Regions from separate parts of the Homo sapiens genome. Here regions 2, 3, 4 and 5 are each linked to region 1. The links come from fine-mapping of genetic effects on gene expression. A gene starts in region 1. Each other region holds a variant in brackets. All regions are shown on one strand. Distances are between the middles of the regions. Region 1 holds the start of PDXDC1 (pyridoxal dependent decarboxylase domain containing 1). Region 2 overlaps MYH11 (myosin heavy chain 11). Region 3 overlaps NOMO1 (NODAL modulator 1). Region 4 has its middle 65 kb from the start of NPIPA5. Region 5 holds the start of MIR1972-1 (microRNA 1972-1).

Region 1 (5,103 bases):
AAAAAGAAAAAGAAAGAAAAAGACAGGTCTGTTAGCAGCACATAAAGCCATATGTCAGTAGAGATTAAACCTCCCCACAACTGATGGCTTCATGCTCCAAACTGTACAATATTCTGCTTATCTCTCTTCACTAGTCCATAGAATGTTGCATTATAATGTATCAGTTTTCCTATCTGTGCATCCACAAGCCAAATGGTTTCAACTTTTTTTTTTTTTTTTCGGGGATGGGGGAATCACAGACTTGAGTATATAATGAAGACAATGGATGTTTTCCCCAGAAAAATGCACTCACTCACACACAAAATGTTGAGTATAGTTTCAGAGACCTCCATCTGCATCCCAAAGTAAAAACTTCTACCCAAAATAGTGTTTTTCTTCAGGGCAGAGAGCTTGTCTTTGTTTTGTGTGTGTGTGTGTGTGTGTGTGTGTGTGTGTGTGTGTGTGTGTGTGTAGACGGAGTCTTGCTCTTGTCGTCCAGGCTGGAATGCAGTGGTGCAATCTTGGCTCACTGCAACCTCCGCCTCCCAGGTTGAAGCGATTCTGCTGCCTCAGCCTCCCGAGTAGCTGGGATTACAGGCGCACACCACCACACCCACTAATTTTTCTATTTTTAGTACAGACGAGGGTTTCACCATGTTGGCCACGCTGTTCTCCAACTCCTGACCTCAGGTGATCCGCCCACCTCGGCCTCTCAAAGTGCTGGGATTACAGGCATGAGCCACCGCGCCCAGCCTTTTTTAAATTTTTAAATTTTTTATTATATTTTGTTTTTGAGACAGAGTCTCGCTTTGTCGCCCAGGCTGGAGTGCAGTGGTGCGATCTCTGCTCACTGCAAGCTCCGCCTCCCGGGTTCACGCCATTCTCCTGCCTCAGCCTCCAGAATAGCTGGGACTACAGGCGCCCGCCACCATGCCCGGCTAATTTCTTTTTGTATTTTTGGTAGACACGGGGTTTCACCGTGTTAGCCAGGATGGTCTCGATCTCCTGACCTCGTGATCCGCCCGCCTCGGCCTCCCAAAGTGCTGGGATTACAGGCGTGAGCCACCGCGCCCGGCCCAGCCTCTTATTTGTATTTTTATTGTTTTTTGAGATGGAGTCTCGTCTTATTGCCCAGGCTGGAGCGCAGTGGCACAATCTCGGCTCACTGCAACCTCTGCCCCCGGGGTTCAAGTGATTCCCCTGCCTCAGCCTCCCAGGTAGCTGGGATTACAGGTGTTTGCCACCACGCCCAGCTAATTTTTTGTATTTTTAGTAGAGACGGAGTTTCACTCTGTTGGCCAGGCTGCTCTTGAACCAGCCTCTTATTCTTTTACATACTATTTCCAGCACAACTGTCCAAGATGGCAGTCAATAAATGTTTGGCTAAATATAATAAATAATACGGTTGATTATTTCCACTTTTTCATGTTGGGTTTTCAAAGTCTACTTTTAAAACAGTAAAGTTAACTTTTCTCTCTAGTATTTGTTTTGTAGAATCTATTATACTTTGTAATGTAATCCACAGAAACTTGGAGGTGACTTTAGTAAAATTTACTAGTTTTGAATGATACCCATGCTGAGGTGCTCAGAGGTGAAATGTACTAACATATATCGATGGATGGATATATGGATGCATATGTGATTAAAGCAAATATAGGGAAAATTAACTGTAGAATCTAGGTAGTGGGTATATGGTTGTTCACTGTACAACTGTTTAAACTTTTCTACGTTTGAAAAATTTCATAACACGTTGGAAAAGTGACTTGTTTTGCTCAAGCAGGGGTACATTCAATCTTCAATTCTTGAAAGACATAAATCTATCTTTCCTTCTGTTTGGAAAGCTCTTTAGAGAGTCAGAATAATCCCCACAGTACAGTCTAAACCAGCACACAAGGGTTTTTTGGTAGAAAATAATTTTATTAACATAACCAGGCAATTTACCAAATACAACGTAGATAGCTCAAAACATGGAGTTACTGCGCTGAAAATGTGACCCTGTTTACACAGATTTCGGGACGAAGAGTATAAAACAGGAGAGAAAAGGAGTAAGATTGTGGTTGTAGCGTCATCGCAGAGGTGAAGTGTTCCATTGATTGCCACTGTGGTAGTCTATATCAGTTTCCCACATTAAGGTGGGAGGAATCTACTAAGCAAATGTACGCCCTCCCCATTCGTTCGAAACACATTGCAGTAAAATTGCAAAAGTGGCCGGGCGTGGTAGCTCATGCCTGTAATCCCAGCACTTGGGGAAGCTGAGACGGGAAGATCGCCTGAGGCCAGGAGTTTGAAGCCAGCTTGGGTAACATAGTGAGACACCCCTACCTTCTCTATTAAAATGAGATTTTAATTTTTTTTCTCTTCAGTTCATCGGTTAACAAGATAAAAAAATTAATAAAAAATTAACTTTTTAAAACATTTAAAGTAAAGTAGGAGTGGAAGCAGTATGTGGACTCATGGGGCTTGGGTCTGAATCCTACCTAGATCGGCACTGCGAAATGGGGATAATGATCTCCTAGAGCTGCTGAAATAGGAAAATGGAAGAACAGCAGCTGATGTATTAATATTATCATTATTACTACTACCCATTACCTGACAAGTGATAATTGTGACATGAAAGAGGCTGGACCGGTTGTTACAACAATTTTTTCCGTCTAGAATTCGGCGGTAAGGTCTGAGACAACACCTCAGCTTAGATCAGTGCCTTCTCTGAACAGCGTTCACTAAGCAGCCCCCAACCCCAAAACCCCCAAGTCCCCGGGCGCCGAGGACGCTGCGAGTCCTGCGCATGCGCAAGGTTGCCCACTCGCTCACCGCCTCCTTGGCGAATGGCCTGTTCCATTCTCGAGGGATGCCGGCGGGAGGTGAGGCGGGAGACTTGGAAGCCTGGGCCCGGAAGTGAGGTGCGTCACTAGTATTTCCAGCCTTTCACTCCATGAATAGTACTTTGTGATTATTATACTTCTACCTTGATGATTGCAACAGGCTGCTGGAAAGAGTTTGGTGAACAATCCACCGGGCATCCTCCCCCCTTCACCTGCGCACGTTAGGGAGGGCCGGCGTGGCGCCCAGGTACGGAATCCCAGAGGGCTCCGCCCAGCGCTACGGGGCCCCGCCCCGCCGCCTCTCAACCATCAGGTTCGGCAGCCCGCGGCGCCGCCTGGCAGCTCCTCCTCTTCTCCGCCCCGCCGGCCGCGGGCGCGGGGGACGTCAGCGCTGCCAGCGTGGAAGGAGCTGCGGGGCGCGGGAGGAGGAAGTAGAGCCCGGGACCGCCAGGCCACCACCGGCCGCCTCAGCCATGGACGCGTCCCTGGAGAAGGTCCGTGCCGGGAGGGGGCGATGGGGACGGTGCTGCGGCCCGGGGCTCCCGCTTCCGAGGCAACTGTTTCCCAGTCGCGAGCTGCCATTGTGACCCGGACAGGGGGACGCGGGCTGACAGGCCCTGCCTGAGGAGGCCTCGCCGGGAGGGCGGCTGGGGCCCGGGCGCGTCACGGGGCCGGGTGTCTCTTGGGTCCCCGTGGGCCGAAGAGGCTGGGCGGGGTTCGGTGGGGGCCGCGACGGGCCCGGAGCCCAGGACTGGGACCGCGGGGCCGACCTTGGGCCCTGCCGAGGTTCCGCGAGTGGCCGGCCTGAGCTCGGCTGGCCCTTTCGGAGGACCGGGAGCTCTCCGTTGGCGGCCCCAGATGCTCCCGGAAAGAAGCCGCAGTTATTTCAGAGCCAGCTGCAAACCTGTAGGTTTTTCTTGGTCTCCGAGTTAGGAATGAAAATTGCCAAAGCAGTGGTTTTCCAACTTCAGCCTGAGTGGGAATCACCTGGGGCCTTTGGTAAAATGCGGAGGTTCAGTCCCGGGGTCAGAACCTCTGGGGGCGGGACCGGGAACTGCGTGTTTAACCGCCACCGCCCCGCTCCCACTCCGCCCCACGCAGGTGATTCTGATGCTGAGCCTGCGATCACCGGGCGAGAACCTCTGAGTTCCAGAAAGGGGTGGGTGTTGCGTAGATTGCGAATTGAGTTTTGGGGATCGCAGCTGCTCCACAACTTCCTGGCTCCCCCATTCCAGTGGCGAGGAGGGATCCCCGAGTCAACTCGAAATCCACTGGTAACAGAGCCTACCTCTGGTTTCCCCTTGGGGGAACGGCAGCGTGGTGTACCAGGCTGACTGCTCTACCATGTGAAACGGATTCTCATTGTCCCAGTGTTAGGGCTTGTAAATGGAAACCAGTTTGGGTTTCTTCACGGATTCCTGCTTTCGGTACCTGACATTCTGCCCTCCCTCAAAGCCCTTCTGTCTGTTCCAGCTTGGGAGTCTGCTTGTCCAATCCAGTGCATACCCGGTTTTTCATGCATGTGGCATTCAGGAGCAATGCTCGTGTTTTAAGACGGCTACATTTTAATTTTGAGCTGGTAGGAATAATATATTTTGTCTTTTTTCAAGGCAGCAGCTGCTGTAGATTTTGTTCACTTGTCACTGGAGAGTTGAAGGCAATAATTGTAAAGGTTGGGCCAGATGTCTTCATGTGCTCACAGTGGTATAGCCTACTCCTGGGTTGCTTAGCATAAATTGGGTGGAAGACAAGAAAAAGATAATATGGTTTTCTTGTGCCATCTCTGGGGTGAATGTTACGTGTTTTCCTGGCTGGGAATAAAGTCTTTCCGGTCGTCTGATTAGCAGGGTGTCTACCTTTTGGTACTTTGAGTTTGTCCAGATGAGTGGTTCTTAAAGCAGGGGGCAATTTATTTCCCCAGGAGACATTTGGCTATCTCTGGACATAGTTTTGATTGTCACAATGGGGGCAGGGAGGTGCTGCCGGTACCTAGTGGGTAGAGGCCAGGGACGCCTCTAAACATCCTACGTTGCACAGGACAGCCCCCCACGCTGGAGAATTCTCTGGCCCAAAATGTCAGCAGTGTTGAGGCTGAGAAATCCTGGTCAAGATCATGTTTATAACACCAGCAGTTGAGTACAAAACGATGCAAAGTGGTGTTATCAATTTCCTAAGAAGGTGGGTGGGCTTCATGTGATTGTAATTGGAATCCTGAAGAACTGGGGTGATCTTTCCTCCAGGAATAATTAGCCTTTATAGGAAAATCTGCAGGGTGGGTCAGAATCCTGCTTTAAATATTACT
Region 2 (5,103 bases), 820 kb after region 1:
CTAGAAACATTCATAGCTTGGCTTTTCTGACCCCTGACCTCTAGGGGTGAAGATGCCTTCCTGGTCTGAGCACCCTAAACTCCTTTCTTATTTCTTGGGGAATTTGGTACTGAGCTCCCTCTTCCCGGAGAAGGACCAGACTCATGACCACGTTATGGCCTCCTGGCCTTGTAACTACCCCAGTGCCAAGTCCTTTTAATCAGTCCAGCCCCAGCAGCTGGGAAGAACCACCCAATGGCCACTTAATCCCCCAGCCAGGCTGGCTTCATGAGTGTGACCTGTACCGTCTCACAGGGACCACCCTGTGCTTCATACTCTAATGTTGCCATCTGGAAATTCTTCCTAATTCTTTATAAACGCTCTGCATTTTTTTTCTTTTCTTTTTTTTTTTTTTTTTTTGAGACTGACTCTTGCTCTATTGCCCAGGCTGGAGTGCAGTGTGTGATGGCGGCTCACTGCAACCTCTACCTCCCAGGTTCAAGTGATTCTCCTGCCTCAACCTCCCAAGTAGCTGGAACTACAGGTGCCCGCCACTATGCCTGGGTAATTTTTATATTTTTAGTAGAGATGGGATTTCACCATGTTGGCGAGGCTGGCCTCGAACTCCTGACCTCATGTGATCTGCCCGCCTCAGCCTCCCAAAGTGCTGGGATTCCAGGTGTGAGTCACTGCACTCAGCCAGCATTTTCATTTTGCAAAATTCTACAAATTCTGCAGCTGGTCCTGGCTCCCAGGGTCGAATATTGCCAAGTCCATTGCAGCCTGTGGTTTGCCACTGGTAGGAAAGCCAAATTGTCTCTGATGAACCTCACAGCTATTCAGTCCCTGGTCTTTATGTGACTGGCAAAGCACCCTGGCATTTTGTACTGTACAACTCCTACACGTCCTGCAAAACCCCAGGCAGAAGCAACGCCTCTCTCCCCTATAGCATCAATTGGCAGAATAGCATAATGGGCTCCAGGACCAGGTTGCTCAAGTTCAAATCCCTCCTCTGCCAGTTACCTGGGTGACCTTAGGCAAGTCATTTAGCCTCTCCATACCTCAGTTTCTTTACCCCATTATAAAATGGGTATAATAAAAACACTTACCTTGTATGATTTTTTTTTTTTTTTTTTTGAGACAAGATCTCACTCTGTGGCCCAGGCTGGAGTGCAGTGATGCAATCATAGCTCACTGCAGCTGAGAATTCCTAGGCTCAAGTGATACTCCTGCCCCAATCTCCCAGGTAGCTGGGACTACAGGTGCACACCACCACAGCTGGCTGATTTTTAAATTTTCTGTAGAGACAGGGGTCTCGCTATGTTGCTCAAGCTGGTCTCGAACTCCTGGTCTCAAGTGATCTCTAGCCTCAGCCTCCCAAAGTGCTGGGACTACAGGCATGAGCCACCATGCCTGACCTTTTATATGATTCTTATGAGGATTAAATGAGTGAACATTTATATAAAATGCTTAGAACAATGCCTGGTATGCCAAAATGTTAGTTATTATTACTTTTGTTTTTTGAGACAGAGTTTTGCTTCTTGCTCAGGCCGGAGTGCAGTGGCACAATCTTGACTCACTGCAATCTCGAACTCCTGGGTTCAAGTGACCCTCCCACCTCAGCCTCCTGAGTAGCTGGGATGACAGGCATGTGCCACTACACCTAGCTAATTTTTTGATTTTGTGGGGTCTCGCTAAGTTGCCCAGGATAGTCTTGAACTCCAGGCCTCAGGCAATCCTCCTGCCTCGGCCCCCTAAAGTGTTGGGATTACAGGTGTGAGCCACTGTGCCCACCTATTATTACTTTTATAACCACTGCTTCCACAGAAGTTATATATTGTTTGTATAATGATTTTCAGCATTCATCCTATCATTACAATATAAATAATATTCACATTTTCCCACTGTTTAAGCTAGGAGTTAGCAAACTCTTTTTGTAAAAGGTCAGACAGTAAATATTT[T/C]AGACTTTGAGGGTCACGCATTCTTTGTCACATCTGCTCAGCTCTCCACTGCAGCACAAAAGCAAATACGTAAACAAGTGGGTGCGGCTGTGTTTCAATAAAACTTTATCTGGAACAGACAGACAAGGGCCTGATTTGACCCACTGGTTAAACTTTGTCCTTCCTTGGCTTGAGTCCCTTAGCACGTTCTCATCCATTTCATTTATTTATTTTATTGTTATATATATTTTTTGAGATGGGGTCTCACTGTGTCACCCAGGCTGAAGTGCAGTGGTGCAGTCTTGGCTCAGTGCCAACTTTCTGCCTCCCAGGCTCAGTGAACCGAGATCCTCCTGCCTCATCCTCCTAAGTAGCTGGGACTACAGGCACATGCCATCACGCTCAGCTAATTTTTGTTTTTGTAGAGAGGGGGTTTGGCCATGTTGGCCAGGCTGGTCTTGAACTCCTGAGCTCAAGCGATCAGCCTGCCTTGGCCTCCCGAAGTGCTAGGATTACAGGCATGAGCCACCATGCCCAGCCTGTCATCCATTTTAGACGAAAGTTTAAACTCCTCCCCAGGGCCTGGAAGCACCCCCTTACCTCTCTCTAATTTTATGTGAAACCACCCTCCTCCTCTTACTTTAGCCCCCTGATCACACAGCTCTATCTCCAGCCAGGCCCATGGCCTCTAATTAAACTGATTATACTGGATGGATTACATGCTAGACAAAATACAACTCAGGCCTAAAAATTACATTTATTCAGCTTTCAGTTTCCTTCCTTTCTTGTCTTCCTTCCCTTCCTTTCCTTCCTTCCTGTCTCTGGGTCTTGCTCTGTTGCCCAGGCTGAGGTGCAGTGGTGCCATCATAGCTCACTTAGCCTCTAACTCCCAAGCTCAAGTGATCCTCCCTCCCCAACCTCCTGAGTAGCTGGGACTACAGGCATGCACCATCCCACCTAGCTAATTTTTAAATTTTTTGTAGTAATGGGGTCTTACTGTGTTCCTCAGTTTGGTCTCAAACTTCTGGCTTCCAGCCACCCTCCCGCCTCGGCCTCTCAAGGCCCTGAGTTTCCAGGCATAAGCCACCACACCCAGCCAATTTTCAGTTTCTTTTCTTTTCTTTTTTTTTTTTTTTTTTTTTTGAGACAGAGTCTCGCTCTGTCACCCAGGCTGGAGTGCACTGGCGTGATCTCAGCTCACTGCAAGCTCCGCCCCCCAGGTTCACGCCATTCTCCTGCCTCAGCCTCCTGAATAGCTGGGACTACAGGCACCCGCCACCATGCCCGGCTAATTTTTTTGTATTTTTTTTAGTAGAGATGGGGTTTCACCGTGTTAGCCAGGATGGTCTCGAACTCCTGACCTCGTGATCCACCCGCCTCGGCCTCCCAAAGTGCTGGGATTACAGGCGTGAGCCACGGTGCGTGGCCAATTTTCAGTTTCTTTTCTTTTCTTTTTTTTTTTTTTTTGAGACAGAGTCTCGCTCTGTCACCCAGGCTGGAGTGCAGTGGTGCGATCTCTGCTAACTGCAAGCCCCGCCCCCCAGGTTCACACCATTCTCCTGCCTCAGCCTCCTGAATAGCTGGGACTACAGGCACCCGCCACCATGCCCAGCTAATTTTTTTGTATTTTTTTAGTAGAGATGGGGTTTCACCGTGTTAGCCAGGATGGTCTCGAACTCCTGACCTCGTGATCCGCCCGCCTCGGCCTCCCAAAGTGCTGGGATTACAGGCCTGAGCCACAGTGCGCGGCCAATTTTCAGTTTCTTAACTGCATAACCAAACAGTTGGCTCCAGCCTGGCTTCTCTTAAGCACCAACTACGCGTAAAAGCTCAGCCCTGCTGTCAACTTGTAGGTCCTTCAAGTCACTTTGGCTGAATTTCACAACAAGCAAAATAAAATTGAATACAGAGACTGAAGATGTTGGTGGTTCTGGGCTGACTGGATGCATTTGCAAATAAAAGTCTGATCGTTTTGGGATTTCCTTCCTAACAATGGCTAAGGCCTCCTTCTCCAGCACTGGCTGTGTGTGGGCAGTGTGCCAAGTCCTTGCTAACGCTGCATTCCAGGAGATGGAGATACACAATAGCCAAGTAAACAAATAATCAAGATAGTTCGTGGTGGAGATATCATTGCTACATCTGGGTGATGTGACTGAGAAGATCGAGGGGAAGGGAGGAGAGGGGAGGCTGTGGATGGGGAAGCCAGGGAGTTGCTGAGCCTTGAAAGTTACAAGAGAGCCCTGTGGGAAGGATGGAGGGAAGGGTGGGCCAGGCAGGGCAAACAGTATGGACAGAGGTCCAAGGGAGGGAAATGCTGGGCCCAGGTATGAGACAGAATGGCTCCCAGCATGGCTGGAGGGCCACAACAGAGGAGGACAGCAGGAAGTGAAGAGGGAAGAGCAGATCACACTCAGTCTTCCAAGTCACAGTAAGGAATCTGAGTTTTATTCTCATGGGTGCAGGAAACCATTTCACGAGGGGAACGGGACTTTAGAACCAGTGTGGGGAGAATCAGAACTGCAGGATGGGCTGGGCGAAGTGGCTCATGCCTGTAATCCCAGCACTTTGGGAGGCTGACTGAGGTGGGTGGATCACCTGAGATCAGGAGTTTGAGACCAGGCTGGCCAACATGGAGAAAACCCATCTCTATTAACAATACAAAAATTAGCTGGGCATGATGGCATAATACTCGGGAAGCTGAGGCAGGAGAATTGCTTGAACCCAGGAGGCGGGGGTTGCAGTGAGCCAAGATCGCACCACTGCACTCCAGCCTGGGCAACAGAGTGAGACTCTGTCTCAACAAAAAAATCAACAACAACAACAAACTGCAGGATGGGCCAGGCTCAGCGGCTCATGCCTGTAATCCCAGCACTTGGGAGGCCGAGGCTCCCCGGGTCACCTGAGGTCAGGAGTTCGAGACCAGCCTGACCAACATGACAAAACCCTGTCTCTACTAAAAATACAAAATTAGCCAGGCATGGTGGTACATGCCTGTTATCCCAGCTACTCGGGAGGCTGAGGCAGGAGAATCACTTGAACCTGGGAGGTGGAGGTTGCTGTGAGCCAAGATCACGCCATTGCACTCTAGCCTGGGCAATGAGAGCAAAACTCCATCTCAAAAACAAACAAACAAACAAACAAACAAACTGCAAGATGGATACTGGATTGCAGGAAGGATTTTTAA
Region 3 (5,103 bases), 100 kb before region 1:
CTCTCCTCCAGTAAGCTACTTGTCTGTATTATTGGCCAGAACCGTGCCACATGGTTACTTCTAGCTGCAAGGGAGGCTGGGACAGTTGGATGTGCTACCCGAGGCTGAGCACGTTGCCACCCTCAACATAACCAGGGTTTGTTCTCAAGGCAGGAAGGATGCCTGTTGAGGAAACAATGAGCCAGCCTGTGAGGCAGATGCTGTTCTCTGTGGACATGTCCTCCTGCCCCTCCTAGCTGGGGCCTTCTTACCCATCAGTTCAGTATTGCTTCCCTGGGGAAGGATGGCCTCCAGGGCCACTTAGGCCTGCCTCCTACACTCTTGCTATCAGCACTCACTTCTATCCCCTTCTTGCATGTGCCACAATTGATATGTTTGTGGCTGTCAAATGCTCCCCCTCTCTGTGGATGGTAAACTCCATGAAGACAGGGACCACTGCTCTGTCATTCCCCACTGTGTACCAGTACCTAGCATAATACCTGGCCAGGAAGAGGTGCTCTGTCGATATTTGTTGAATGAAAGACCAAACAAAACAAACAGAGAAACCTGATTTTTTTTTTTTTTTTGATGGTAACTACTCTGGGGCTTGTTGAGTGCAATGAAAACAGCAGGGTGGTTTTAGCTAATTTCAGGTTTTTGTAGGAAGTGTGGCCAAAATATTGGTTAATGATGATTTGGGGGAAATACATTGTTATTCCTTGTATCTTCCTGAAATTGACTGTGTTCCTCTGGCAAGTGATGAAATGTACCCCTAGCCGGAGTGTCCTCCCACACAGACTCACACTTTTCTGGGGCTTCCCTTACTCCTTACCTCCTTTTTAGGAATATTTATAGGAAGAAATTGAGGCTGTGGTTATCTCTTGGATCCTTAATAGAATCTTTTAAGTAGGAAATTATCCTCAGTCCAATTTGCAGTAGAAACGTACTTTCTGTTCCTTCTCGTGCATGGGTCCGTTCACCTGGTCTGTGCAGATTTAACTACTGTGAGTTGTTACCTTATGGAAAATGAAAATCATGCGCCTGTGATCGCGCCATTGCATGGATCGGGTTATTGGTAAGACGCCTTCATAGGCAGTGAAAACGATGCCTGCCCAGTATTTCTGATCCCATTATTGCAGATCTGCGATACGTTTGAGTTTTCACATGCAAAGAGCTGCCACTCGATTTCAGATGTCGGAATTGCTCGGTGTAATAGATGCCATTCTCTGAAAATTACTTTTGATTTCCTGTCTGTAGGTGTGTACAAAGTGACCCCTCGCTCCTGCCACCGGTTTGAGCAAGCGTTCTACACCTATGACACGTAAGCCTGGGAATTGAATGCTTTGTGGTGTTTGTATACATTCCGTGGAGGATTCTTCATTTACTTCAGAGAACAAAAGGAGTTTTTCTGTTTTTTTTTCTGAAAGAGGCAAGGTTAGGCCTTCAACAGCATTTCTAGATAAGGATTTTAAGACACTTGGATTAGTTACTGAGGAACCGGAGACAGGATCCCTTTCCCAAGAATTCTGTAACCCCAGGATAGAGGGCTGTGTTTTTGAAGTGCCTTAAATAGAAGCTTTGTCAAATCTCCCAGCCCTCACCGATGGGCGTCTGTCAAGTTCAAGTCTGCCATTTTTGTATTTTTACAGAAGTGTGTGGGTTTCACTGGGAATTGGAAGCATAAAGTTGTGGAGTGGAGAATTAGTTTACTCTTTAAAATACTTCTCTGGATCTCCAGAGTTATTTTACCCCAGACTAAGAGCAATTTTCTGTAGTATATTTAGGGTGAAGAAGGATGCCCAAAAAGGGTATTGCTGATGATCTTCTGAGAATGAGTAGGTTCTAGCGTTTCCTCTGCTTTGATTTGTAGGTCTTCACCTAGTATCTTGACATTGACAGCCATTCGCCACCATGTCCTTGGAACTATCACCACCGACAAAATGATGGATGTCACTGTGACTATCAAGTAAGATGAGCGTTCTGCAGTGGGCCGAGAGTGGCGGGAGAGGGTGTGGATGAGGCCTGGGGAGTCTCTAATAGGCTCTCTGGAAATTAGTTTTGATTTCTTATCTCTAGATGTATATACAAATGGCCTTCCCTCTCTTATAGGACATTGCCGTCAATTCCCAGCAGCCTTGATCCTTTCCTTTTCTGATTCAGAAATTACCTGTGGGTGAGGAAGAGCGTTGCGACAGCTTGTTTCAGTGTCTTCAATTTCTGTTTGAACTCTTTGTACTTCTCATCTTTGCTAAGGAAAAAAAAAATCTCTGGGGTTTGTGCATTGTATTTCAAGTGTTTTAGCAAATTCAAATTGCCTATTTTTCTTTAGACTTTTGCTTGAAGGCTTGGGAAATAGAGATGGCACCTGGTATAAGAGAAGGGTCGTGAGAGAGGAAGTATTTGAAAGGCAAGTCCCTCACCGAAGGTCACGTTCATGTGAATGTCACCTTTCAGGGAATTTTTGCAGTGTGGTGAGGTACCTGTGACGCCCCAATTTTCTTGAGAAATGAACGAGTTTTGGCAACATGACCGTCTCTGTCAAGTAGAATGGGCAT[T/C]GCAGTCCCTGTCTCCCTCCTGCCCCTGGTTGAAGTCACCTTTCCAGCTATGTTTCCATCTTTCTGTCCACCATCTGTTTATCCATCCGTCATCCCTGCAGAGTACATGATGACTGAAAAACTGAGAGTCTTCAGTGTTTAGGCACTGGGCTTATGAGGCCACAGCCCCTACACTTATGGGATTGACAGTCTCATGGGGGGAACAGTGGTCAGATACTCACATGCAGAACCGTAAATGACAACTGTTCTGAGTGCTTTGAGCTTGACCTTGGGGGCATGCAGGACAGGTAGGCTGCGGGGGGCCAGGCCATGTTAAGGTCCATAGTCTTTGTCCCATGATGCAATTGACATGTTTTACATAGAGGAATGACATTTTTCTTCCTGAAAGGTCCCCCTATTGGCCGAGTGGAGAACAGACAGAAGAGGCCTGAGAGTGGGAGGTGGTGGAGGCAGGGGGAGGCAATGGGGGCCCCAGACTAGTGGCTGCGGAGATGGAGAGCGACGGACTGGTCGGAGAGTCGTTGAGGGACTGAGTTGATGAGACATGGCACTAAAGTGACCACTGGGTTAGGGCGGGAGAAATGTCAGGGCTGGCCCTGGTTTCTGGTGATGGGGAGCCAGGTTTTTAGCTGGGGGTGGATTTGCCGAAGGTCTGTTGCTGTCTTTTACTATCATTTACTGTCTCCCTGCTTGGAAAGTATGAATTACTGATAGGACTAGCAATCTACCTTCTTACCAGTAGTAACTGCATATTACCTCCTTTCAGCTTGATTACATTCATTTTTGTAACTTCACAAGGGTGTTTGTGTTGCTTGCTTGTGCCGGAGGTTGTATGGAATGCATCTTCCAGCTAGACAGAGCCACTCGGATTCCCCCTGGGGATCTTGTACTCAGCAGACCCAAAACCCGACTGCTGACAGTTGCCCTCCATGAGCCCCTCTGTGGTCTTTTCTGATTCAGATATGGCAGCTCCCGCTTTCTCCTTGTTTCTTGATTCTTATTTCCCTTGAACCCTAGGCCCAGCCAATTCCCCAACAAAGCCTTGGCTTTACAATCAAAATACACCCGTCATCTAGTCCCTTTTTACCACTTGGCCCTCAGCCTTGGTCTGACCCCCCTCTGGGGTCACTGTAGCAGCTTCCCAGCTGGGCTTCGCTTCTTACCACGTGGCCCTCAGCCCTGGTCTGACCCCCCTCTGGGGTCACTGCAGCAGCTTCCCAGCTGGCCTTCCTGTTTCCGCCATTGCTTTGTGTATTTTCCATGAAGGAGCGAACGATTTCTTTTATCATACCATTCCTCGACTGAAAACTCCAGTGGCTCCAGGTCGGCACCAAGCCTGTGAAGCCTCAGTCTGACATCTGCTGCCCCTTGGACCTCTCTGTTGGATATGACTCTTCCGTGGGCCCCTGTGCCCCAGGCTGGACTGGTGTTGCCATTGCTTGAACATCTGAGTGAGCTTTCTCTCCAAGGACTTTGCACTTGGCATCGCTTTTCCCAAGCTACTGTTTACCCAGAGAGCTGCGTGGCGCATTCTCTCCCTTCCTTCAGACCTTTGCTCAACGTCACCTTATCAGAAAGGCCTTGACTGTCCCTTTAATGTAAAACAGTGCTCCGGGCTCTCCGTCTTCCCACACTGCTTTATTTTTCTTTATTGCACTTTTCCTCTGGTATTATTTTTCTCTTTATTTTCAGCCCCTTCCCATTGAAACGTGGATTCCACAGGGGTAGGAAGTGTGGTCTGTTTTGTTGATGCTGTATCCTTGGTGCCTAGTTCTCTATCAGAGCAGTTCTCAGCGAAGGTAGAATGGAGAACAGAGGATGGTGGTGTGGAGAAAACTCCATGTCCTACATGGAAGCTACAAGCTTATATCCAGTCGCCATAAAATCAACCGTATTTCATTCCAGCCCAGATCTACCAGATACTGCCACCATCACTGCGAAGCTCAGTTGTTATTTTTTGTGAAACTACTAGTTTATTTAAAACAGAAGACTCCGCCACTGTGGTGTCATGATAAGATGTCCAGTTTGTAACTCGCAAGTCCATACTCGTAGAAAGGTCAAATTCCCACTGACCACAAGGATACGCAACTATGTCCTAGGGGCCGTCTTTCTTCTAGGTCTTCCATCGACAGTGAACCCGCCTTGGTCTTAGGCCCTCTGAAGTCTGTGCAGGAGCTGCGGAGGGAGCAGCAGCTGGCTGAGATCGAGGCCCGCAGGCAGGAGAGGGAGAAAAACGGCAATGAGGAAGGCGAAGAAAGAATGACCAAGCCTCCCGTGCAGGAGATGGTAGATGAGTTACAAGGCCCCTTCTCGTATGATTTCTCTTACTGGGCGCGGTAAGCTCTCTTGTGCGTTTCCCTACAGTGTCCTCTGTTTTGTGGGGACAGGACCCGCCAAACTGAAGTATATTAATTATTTTAGGTCTGGAGAGAAAATCACTGTTACACCGTCATCTAAAGAGCTGCTCTTTTATCCCCCTTCAATGGAAGCCGTTGTCAGTGGAGGTAAATGTCAACTCAGCGAGCGAATGTCACACACACCTTTGCAGTTGTTCCCTTGCCTGCATTTA
Region 4 (5,103 bases), 340 kb after region 1:
CACAATGTTTGACCCATGAATGATTGTGATGCCAACCCCCTCACAGTTGGAAATCCACCTATAACTTTTGACTCCCCCAAAACGTAGCTACTAATAGCCTATTGTTGACCAGAAGTCTTACCAATAACACAAACAATAGACACATATGTTGTATTTTAGATGATTATACACTGTATTCTTACAATAAAATAAGCCAGAGAAAACAATATATGATTAAGAAAATCATAAGGAAGAGAAAATGTATTTGTTATTCATTAAGTGGAAGTGGATCATCATAAACGTCTTCATCCTCATTGTCTTCACATTGAGGAGACTGAGGAAGAGGAGGAAGAGGAGGAATTGGTTTTGCCGTCTCAGAGGTGGCAAAAACAGAAAAAAATCCATGTATAAGTGGACCCATGTGGTTCAAATCCATGTTGTTCAAGGGCCAACTGTATTTATATTACAATAAATGCTGTTAATGTTGTCACTGTTGACCCTTCTATTCCATTCCCAACATCACTTCCTATGCCCAGTGGAAAATTCCATCTTAAAATCACCCAGCCCAAGCCCTCTTCAGTAGACTCAGATAGATGGCTTGTCAAGGGCATGACTTAACTTCTCCAAACACAACCAGCCCAGTTTCAACTGCCATTTGGGGAACTTTCCCAATTACCACATTTCCGCACGTCAAGTATGAATTACTTTAATTGCCCCAGAAGAACGCACTGTTGAAACATTTGACTTGCCCAGAACTAATTGTCTGTCAAAAAGATATTTTGCAGCCAAGCTGATCTCTTAATTGGACATCTAATTTAACTGAAAACCTTTTTCCCTGCTTGTTTTATGCTTTCTTCTCCTGTTTTTGCCAAATTCTGGATGCTGGGCACTGCTTTCAGAAATAATTTATCTTGTTATTTTCTATTATAAAAGTAATACATGTTCATTATAGAAAAACTGAAAAAAAAAATTCCACATGAAGAAAAACAGTGGATCCTAGACTCATTGCCCAGAGGAGGACTATGAACATTCCACATGAAGAAAAACAGTGGCTCCTAGACTCATTGCCCAGAGGAAGACTATGAACATTCCAAATGAAGAAAAACAGTGGCTCCTAGACTCATTGCCCAGAGGAAGACTATGAACATTCCAAATGAAGAAAAACAGTGGCTCCTAGACTCATTGCCCAGAGGAAGACTATTAACATTCCACATGAAGAAAAACAGTGGCTCCTAGACTCATTGCCCAGAGGAGGACTATGAATATTCCACATGAAGAAAAACAGTGGCTCCTAGACTCATTGCCCAGAGGAAGACTATGAACATTCCAAATGAAGAAAAACAGTGGCTCCTAGACTCATTGCCCAGAGGAAGACTATGAACATTCCAAATGAAGAAAAACAGTGGCTCCTAGACTCATTGCCCAGAGGAGGACTATGAACATTCCAAATGAAGAAAAACAGTGGATTCTAGACTCATTGCCCAGAGAAAGACTATGAACATTCCAAATGAAGAAAAACAGTGGATCCTAGACTCACTGCCCAGAGGAGGACTATGAACATTCCAAATGAAGAAAAACAGTGGATCCTAGACTCATTGCCCAGAGAAAGACTATGAACATTCCAAATGAAGAAAAACAGTGGATCCTAGACTCACTGCCCAGAGGAGGACTATGAACATCTTAGCAAGTCTCCCCTCAGGTTGTCCTAGAATAGATGTCTCTACGTAGTTAATAAAAACATACATTCAAGTTTTGCAGCTTTTTGTTCCACTTTACATTTTAAGTTGAACGTTTACACTTCCCATTCCAAGATCTTCAGAAACATGTTTAGAAACAGAAGAATATCCCAACAACAGTCTGTTTAACCTCTTCCCCTAATGCTGAACTATTGTTGCTTTAAGCATACATTTTCTGTGTGTGTTTCAGATGTAGTTTCCTTAGGAAAGATTCTCTATGCTGTGCAACAATTCCCCATGTGTCTCTTACATTTCTGCACATCTTGTGTCAGC[A/G]TTTGTTCTAGACCGTCTTTATAAGGATGTTTGTATAGCTAATAGCATTGGAAGATAGGGCTAATATAGTAGAAGACAGATTTATTTGCTGATTAGGATTATAATAATAATATCTCCGGACCAGGCGCAGTGGCTCATGCCTGTAATCCCACCAATTTGTGAGGCTGAGGCAGGCAGATGACCTGAGGTTGGGAGTTCGAGACCAGCCTGGCTAATATGGTGAAACCCCCGTCTCTACTACAAACACTTAAAAAATTAGCTGGGTGTGGTGGTGGGTGCCTGTAATCCCAGCTACTTGGGAGACAGGTGGGAGAATTGCTTGAACCCAAGAGGCAGGGGTTGCAATGAGCTAAGATCATACCACTGCACTCCAACATGGGTGTGACAGAGCAAGACTCTACCTCAAAAAAAACAAAAAACAAAAAAAGAAGAAGAAAAAGAAAAAGAAAGGATTATAATGACAATGTCTCCCTCCATCCAGGGTAAAGGTTGAAAAGACCAAGATTCCTAAACTTGGGGTTCCTCAGGTGTGATGCAAATCCACTGCAGGCACAGATTCTACCTGGATCCATCCGTGTATTACTCATTTCTCACACTGCTAATAAAAACATACCCAAGGCTGGATGTGGTGTCTCACACCTGTAATCCTAACACCTTGGGAGGCCGAGGTGGGCAGATTGCCTGAGCTCAGGAGTTTGAGACCAGCCTGGGCAACATGGTGAAACCTCATCTCTACTAAAATACAAAAAATTAGCCAGGCATTGTGGTGCACACCTATAATCCTAGCTACTCAGGAGGCTGAGGTGGGAGAATCGCTTGAACCCGGGAGGTGGAGGTTGCAGTGAGCCAAGAATGCGCCACTGCACTCCAGCCTGGGCGACAGAGTGAGATTCTGTCTCAAAAAAAGAAAAAAAAAAGGCTAGGCATGGCTGTAATCTCAGCACTTTGGGATGCTGAGGTGGGCAGATCACCTGAGGTCAGGAGTTCAAGACCAGCCTGACCAACATGGAGAAATCCCATCTGTACTAAATATACAAAATTAGCTGGGTGTGGTGGTACATGCCTGTAATCCCAGCTACTCAGGAGGCTGAGGCAGGACAATTGCTTGAACTTGGGAGGCAGAGGTTGGGGTGAGCTGAGATCCTGCCATTGCACTCCAGCCTGGGCGACAAGAGTGAAACTCTGTCTCAAAAAAAACAAAAAAACAAACAAACAAAAAACATACCCTAGACTGAGTAATTTATAAAGGAAAGAGATTTAATTGACTCAGGGAGGCCTCGGGAAACTTACAATCATGGCAGAAGGGAAAGCAAACATGTCCTTCTTCACATGGCGGCAGAAAGGGGAAGAATGAGCAAAAGAAGAAAAAGCCCCGTATAAAACCATCAGATTTTGTGAGAACTCATTCACTATCATAAGAACAGCATGAAGATAACTGCCCCCATGATTAAATTACCTCCCACTGGGTCCCTTCCATGACACATGGGGATTGTGGGAACTACAATTCAAGATGAGATTTGGGTGGGGACACAGCCAAACCATGTCAACCTGTGTCACCCTTGAGGGACTTGGGGGTCAAAGGGAACTGGTGCAGACATGAAGCTCAAGCTTCCTGTTGTGCCATGAAAAATAAAGTCCTTTATCTCTCAATCCAGAGTCTCATGTCTTCTGCCCACATCCATAAAACTCACTAGCCTCCATGTAGGATAATATCTTAGACCAGCACAGTTCTTGACACTCTAGAAGTGAATTTGTTGGATCAAAAAGCATGAACAATTGCTAAAACTCTTAATATGTCTTGTCAATTAGCTCTCCAAACAAATATGAGTCATTGCCTGAAATCTCTTTTGTCCTCAGGAAGGGATAGAGCTGCTTGACTCAGATCTCTCAGGTGGCCTTAGACTGTAATGTCTTCCTTTCGTGCAGAGCTCTTACCATCCTAAGCCACTACACCTACCTAATATTCTATAAAAAGCTTTTTCTCCCTACCCAGTGTCTCCAATGAGCTGACTTTCTTTTCTGGATTACTCTTTTATGTAATAAAAAGTAGACATGAGGGTCAAACAGAAAGGGAAAAAGGGGAATTTGTTTAATTTCTACCAAGTGCCAGGCATAGTACAAAGAACATTTAGATAAGGCAGAAGGCATTAATTATTTTTATCTACCCAGAACCCACTGCCCCACCTAAGCACCCCAGCCCCTGACCTGGCCACGTGGGTGGCTATGTGACCTGAGCTGAACCAATCAGAGTCCTTCCCTGGGATTTTTTTCACATCATAACCACATGAGAAGGTCTCCCATTATGAAACAGAGAAGCTTGTTGGCAGCCATGGTTCTAGCCAAGGATGGAAAAAACAACCAAAAAAAGAAAAGAAACAAAAAAAACCCACCATGGTAAAAAAATACATATATAAAAATAAAAAAGATATGAAAGACAGACAGACATGGGGAATGGTCTCTTTCCAGTTGCCCCTGCCACTCAACTGCTCTCCTACCTTCCTGGATTTGGTTATGAGAGTCAATAAATTATCCCCTTTTATTGCCTAAATGACTTCCATATGAGTTTCTGCTCCTTGCAACCAACATAATCTTGACAATTAATAGTAGCTAGCATTTTGTGAGTGTTTACTGTGCCATGCCCATTAATACACCTAATCCTCTCTACAATTGGACAGGTAAGGTGCTTTTAGTAACCTCCAATGTACAAAAAGGAAAACAAGTTGGGTGAAGTGAAATGACTTGCTCACAGTCGCTGGGCTAACAAGGGGGCAGAGTCAAAGTTTAAAGCCAGAGCCCATACTCTTCCCTATTGTATAACACAGACATGCTGTCTCTGTTCCCAGTGCTGGGGAATGCAGAGAACTGGGGACTGAAGGAAGAGCAGGCGTTCAGGTAAGCATTAATCAGGGGACCTTCCACAAGGGAAAAGGGAGTACTGGCCCAGTTGAAGTCCAGCCAGCACTCAGCATGGTCAAGGATGGGGTGGTGCTCTCTCCAGCCATTCAAGGTGCTGAGAAAAGAACAGAACTTTCATCTGAGGAATACAAGCCTTTTAAATTATTAGGCCCAGAGAGGCAATAGAACGAGATAGCAATCATGTCCTACATACCCCCTT
Region 5 (5,103 bases), 38 kb after region 1:
ACTTTTGAGAGTTATCTGCTTCTTTTGTAAGTCATAATTTTTCATTTTATAGCTTTTATACTGGGCACCTCATTTTTTAATGATTTGTTTTGGTTCCAGGATGTTGCCTTCCTGGAGAAACTGATTAAAGATGATATAGAGCGAGGAAGACTGCCCCTGTTGCTTGTCGCAAATGCAGGTAGGTAGCATGATGCTGAATCTACCATTTTGAATATATAGGAGCGAGGCTACGTCCTCAGCCTATAAAAGATAAAGTCTTAAGAAATGTGTGTGTACCACATGTTTAAGATAGTCCATATCCACATTGTAGCAAAAACTGTAATAGTAAGGTTGGCTCGTTAGATTTTTCTTTAATCGTTGGTTTGTTTTGGAAGTTATTTTATGTGTGTGTATACTTTTTCATTTAGATGGTAAATGCTTCTCTATCTTCTCCTTCATGTACTTCTTTTCCCTGTTCTAAACTGAATTTTATTTTATTTTTTTGAGATAGAGTCTCACTCTGTTGCCCAGGCTGGAGTGCAGTAGCACAATCTCACCTCACTGCAATCTCTGCCTCCCGGGTTCAAGTGTTTCTCCTGCCTCAACCTCCTGAATTGCTGGGATTACAGGTGCATGCCACCACATCTGGCTAATTTCTTGTATTTTTAGTAGAGACAGGGTTTCACTATGTTGGCCAGGCTGGTCTCGAACTCCTGACCTCAGGTGATCCGCCTGCCTCAGCCTCCCAAATTGCTGGGATTACAGGCATGAGCCACTGTGCCTGGCCTGAATTTTTAAATGACACATTTAAGCCAGGTGTGGTGGCACATGCCTATAGTCCCTCTACTCAGGAGACAAGCAAGATGTTGGCTTAAGCTCAGAAGTTCAATACCAGTCTGGGTAACATAGCAAGACCCCATCTCAATAAATAAATAAAAATAATTGTACTGACGTTGTAAGATTGTTGTAAAAATTAAACAAGAAAATTCATAAGATGTCACACTTAAATATCTACCTTATAGGCGGCAGAGCAACTACCACTTGCTGCTCCATTTATCTCATTCAGCATCATACTTGAAATCTAAGACAGTGCAATAAGGCAAAAAAAATAACTGACAGATTAGAAAGGAAGAAATAAAACTTTGTTTGCAGGCATGATTGTATAGATAGAAAACTAAAGAAAAGCTACTGGAACTAATGATCAAATCTAAACCATTTTCTGGATTTTTACATACTAGCAAAGAAGAATTGGAAATTGAATTTTAAATGTCATTTATAATAGGATCAAAAAAGATGAAAAATTTATGGATAAATTTAACAAAATATATGCAAGATCTGTACATTGAGAACTAAGAATGTTACTGAGAGAAATTCAAGAAGACCCAAGAACGATATGCCATACACACGGGTTGGAAGACTAAGTATTAAGTCAGTTCTTCCCAAACTAATCTGTAGATTCAACTTGATCCATCTTAAAATCTCAGCAGGCTACAATTTCTTAATAGAACTTGATGAGCTAATTCTAAAGTTTATATAGAAATACAAGGGATCTAGGAACAGCCCAAGGGATTTTGAAAAAGAACAAAATTGGAAGACTTACCTTGTCATACTTCAAGACTTCTGTAAAGTAGCAAGTAAGACTGTGTGAGATTAACCAAAGAAAATAGAGAATTCAGAAATAGACTCATGTGAAGTATATGGACACTTCAGGTTTTTACAGATGCCTGAGTAATTCGAGGGAGAAAGGACCATCTTTTTCCATCAGTGGTCTTAGAGCTTGGATATCCATATGGAAAAAAACTGAATCTTAACCCTTATCTTATTCTCTGTATATATAAATATTAACTATAAATGGTTCATCAACCTAAGCATAGATCTAAGACAATAAAATGTCTCAAAGAAAATACAGGAGATCTTTGTGACCTTAGGTTACATTTCTTAGGATACAAAATATGTGAACCATAAATTGTACTTTATCAAAAATTAAAAGCATTAGCTGTTTGAAAGCCCCTATTAAGAAGATGAAAGGCAAGTTACAGACTGGGAGAAATATTTGCAAAACATTTTTTTCTTTTTTTTTTTTTTTTTTTGTCTTTTTCTATTTTTATTTTTTA[T/C]GTTTTTGAGATGGAGTTTTGCTGTGCTGCCCAGGCTGGAGTGCAGTGGTGCGACCTTGGCTCACTGCAACCTCCGCCTCCCAGGTTCAAGCGATTCGCCTGCCTCAGCCTCCCGAGTAGCTGGGATTACAGGCGCACGCCACCGTGCCGGGCTAATTTTTGTATTTTTAGTAGAGACGAGATTTCGCCATGTTGGCCAGGCTGGTCTCAAACTCCTGACCTCAGGTGGTCCACCTGCCTTGGCCTCCCAAAGTGATGGGATTACAGGCGTGAGCCGCCACACTCAGCCAGCCACTGTCCCAGTCCTGTCTTCTTTTAAAATTTCTTTTTCATTCTTTTCCCCAGAAGCTACAAAACATTTGTTTGACAAAGAACTTGTATCTAAAATATATAAAGAACTGTTACAACTCAATAAGGACACAAGCAATACAATTTTTTTTTTTTTTGGAGATGGAGTCTCATTCTGTTGCCCAGACTAGAGTGCAGTGGTGCGATCTTGGCTCACTGCAACCTCTGCCTCCCGGGTTCCAGTGATTCTTCTGCCTTAGCCTCCCGAGTACCTGGGATTACAGGCATGTGCCACCACACCTAGCTAGTTTTTTGTATTTTTAGTGGAGATGGAGTTTCACCGTGTTGGCCAGGCTGGTCTTGAACTCCTGACCTTAGGTGATCTGCCTGCCTTGGCCTCCCAAAGTGCTGGGATTACAGGTGTGAGCCACTGTGCCCGGCCCACAATACAATTTTTTAAATGAACAACAGATTTGAGCAGATACTTCATCAAAGAAAATGAAAATGTATAGCACTTGAAAAGATGTTTAACATCATTAGTCATTAGTGAAATGCAAATTAAGATCACCATGAGACATTACTACATGTCTGTTAGAATGGAGAAATTACAGGTGGCTCACACTTGTAATCCCAACACTTGGGAAGGCTGAGACTGCGAGATCAATTGCCCTCAGGTGTTCGAGACCAGCCTGGGCAACATGGCGAAACCCCTAGGAAATCTCTACAAAAAATACTAAACATTAGCCAGGTGTGGTGGTGTGTACCTGTAGTCCCAGCTACTCCAGAGGCTTTGGTGGGAGGTTGGCTTGAACCCAGGAGAGAGAGGTTGCAGTGAGCCAAGATTGTGCTACCATACCCCAGCCTGGGTGACAGAGCCAGATCCTTTCTTAAAAAAAAAAAAAAAAAATTCTTTAAAATATAATGTCAGGCCAGGCACAGTGACTCAAGCCTGTAATCCCAGCACTTTGGGAGGCCGAGGCGGGCAGATTACGAGGTCAGGAGATCAAGACATCCTGGCTAACATGGTGAAACCCCGTTTCCACTAAAAATACAAAAAAATAGCTGGGTGTGGTGGTGGGCACCTGTAGTCCTAGCTACTTGGGAGGCCGAGGCAGGAGAATGGCATGAACTCGGGAGGCAGAGGTTGCAGTGAGGTGAGATCGCACCACTGCACTCCAGCCTTGGTGACAGAGTGAGACTCTGTTTCTGTAAAAAATAAATAAGTAAATAAATAAAACTTGCCAGGTGTGGTGGTGGGCACCTGTAGTCCCAGCTACTTGAGAGGCTGAGGCAGGAGAATGGCTTGAACCCGGGAGGCGGAGCTTGCAATGAGCCGAGATTGTGCTACTGCACTTCAGCCTGGGCGACAGAGTGAGACCCTATCTCAAAAAAAAAAGAAAAAAAAAAAAAAAGGCAAAAAACTACAGTGACAGAAGCAGATCAGGATTTTCCAGGGCCAGTGAGGAGTCAGGGAAAGGGTAATTATATTGGGGTTGATGGGATTTGGGGGTTGATGGAAGTATTCTGAATCTTGATTGTGTTGATGGTTACATGCTCTATATATTTGTCAAAACTCATTGGACCGTATACTTACATGAGTGAGTTTTGTTGCATGTAAATCATACTACAATAGGCCGAGCATGAGAGCTCATGCCTGTAGTCCCAGCACTTTGGGAGGCTGAGGCAGGCAGATCACAAGGTCAGGAGTTCAAGACCAGCCTGACCAATGTGGTAAAACCCCATCTCTACTAAAAATGCAAAAATTAGCCAGGTGTGGTGGTGTGCACCTGTAGTCCCAGCTACTTGGGAGGCTGAGGCAGGAAAATCGCTTGAACCTGGGAGGTGGAGGTTGCAGTGAGCCAAGATCGCACCACCGCACTGTAGCCTGGGCGACAGAAAGGGTCTCTGTCTCAAAAAAAAAAAAAAAAAAAAAAATCATACTACAATAAAACTGCTTATTTAGGCCGGGTGCGGTGGCTCATGCATGTAATTCCAGCACTTTGAGAGGCCAAGGCGGGAAGATCACCTGAGGTCAGGAGTTCAAGACCAGCCTGGCCAAAATGGCGAAACCCTGTCTCTACTAAAAATATAAAAATTAGCTGGTTGTGGTGGCAGGCACCTGTAATCCCAGCTACTTAGGAGGCCGAGGCAGGAGAATAGCTTGAACCCAGGAGGCTGAGATTGCAGTGAGCCGAGATTGCGCTGCTGCACTCCGGCCTGGGCAACAGGGTGAGACTCTGTCTCAAAAAAAAAAAAAAAAGACAAAATAGAAAAACCACATAAATATTCACTTTATTGCCAACAGGAAAACCATCACTTCCTGCCTTATTGTTTAAAAACACAAATTCACCCATATTCAATCACATGATAAACTGGAGGGGCTGCAGTTTGCATGTGACTGAGTGACTTGCCAGTGTGATTATGTTGCAGATGTCAGCAGACACATGTCAAGGGTTAGTCACCAGACATTGCCAAGAAATACGAAAAGAGAATCTGCATGCGATCCAGGCACTAACACAGCAGTACGCTTTTATTTTGCTGGAAGAGCCTGTGGCACAGCCCATGCATTGACATTTGATCTTGTTTCAGCTAAACTAAATGTGTCTGTTAAGATTTTTTTTTTTTAATTTGAGGTAGATTTAGGTATGAGGGGAAAAAGTTTTCAGCCCTTTTCCTGGCATAGACCTTACAAAAGAACTACTTTCTTTAGCTGTGTTTGTTG

What was found. PIP is the estimated chance that this variant, and not a neighbour inherited with it, causes the effect.
Region 2: its variant is the best candidate, but not a certain one, in a credible set for the expression of PDXDC1 in spleen (GTEx, PIP 0.78).
Region 3: its variant is the best candidate, but not a certain one, in a credible set for the expression of PDXDC1 in cerebellum (GTEx, PIP 0.52).
Region 4: its variant is the best candidate, but not a certain one, in a credible set for the expression of PDXDC1 in tibial nerve (GTEx, PIP 0.56).
Region 5: its variant is the best candidate, but not a certain one, in a credible set for the expression of PDXDC1 in whole blood (INTERVAL, PIP 0.79).

What each region holds. Positions count from the first base shown.
Region 1 is chr16:14,971,926-14,977,028 of GRCh38, forward strand. PDXDC1 (pyridoxal dependent decarboxylase domain containing 1) reads left to right here and starts at 3,101. Exons shown (of 23, transcript NM_015027.4): 1 at 3,101-3,295. The coding sequence starts at 3,275. RefSeq lists a silencer at 1,967-2,261 and an enhancer at 2,419-3,182.
Region 2 is chr16:15,790,576-15,795,678 of GRCh38, forward strand. The region is part of intron 4 of MYH11 (myosin heavy chain 11); the gene reads right to left. Among named protein-coding and RNA genes, the nearest start is that of MYH11, 64 kb to the right of the region's middle. The variant T/C (reference allele first, on the strand shown) is at 1,941.
Region 3 is chr16:14,870,385-14,875,487 of GRCh38, forward strand. NOMO1 (NODAL modulator 1) reads left to right here. Exons shown (of 31, transcript NM_014287.4): 17 at 1,237-1,300; 18 at 1,850-1,945; 19 at 4,652-4,870; 20 at 4,956-5,038. Among named protein-coding and RNA genes, the nearest start is that of MIR3179-1, 29 kb to the right of the region's middle. The variant T/C (reference allele first, on the strand shown) is at 2,535.
Region 4 is chr16:15,310,887-15,315,989 of GRCh38, forward strand. No RefSeq gene overlaps it. Among named protein-coding and RNA genes, the nearest start is that of NPIPA5, 65 kb to the right of the region's middle. The variant A/G (reference allele first, on the strand shown) is at 1,989.
Region 5 is chr16:15,009,582-15,014,684 of GRCh38, forward strand. PDXDC1 (pyridoxal dependent decarboxylase domain containing 1) reads left to right here. Exons shown (of 23, transcript NM_015027.4): 8 at 100-178. MIR1972-1 (microRNA 1972-1) reads right to left here and starts at 816; the gene lies at 740-816. RefSeq lists a silencer at 3,429-3,534. The variant T/C (reference allele first, on the strand shown) is at 2,094.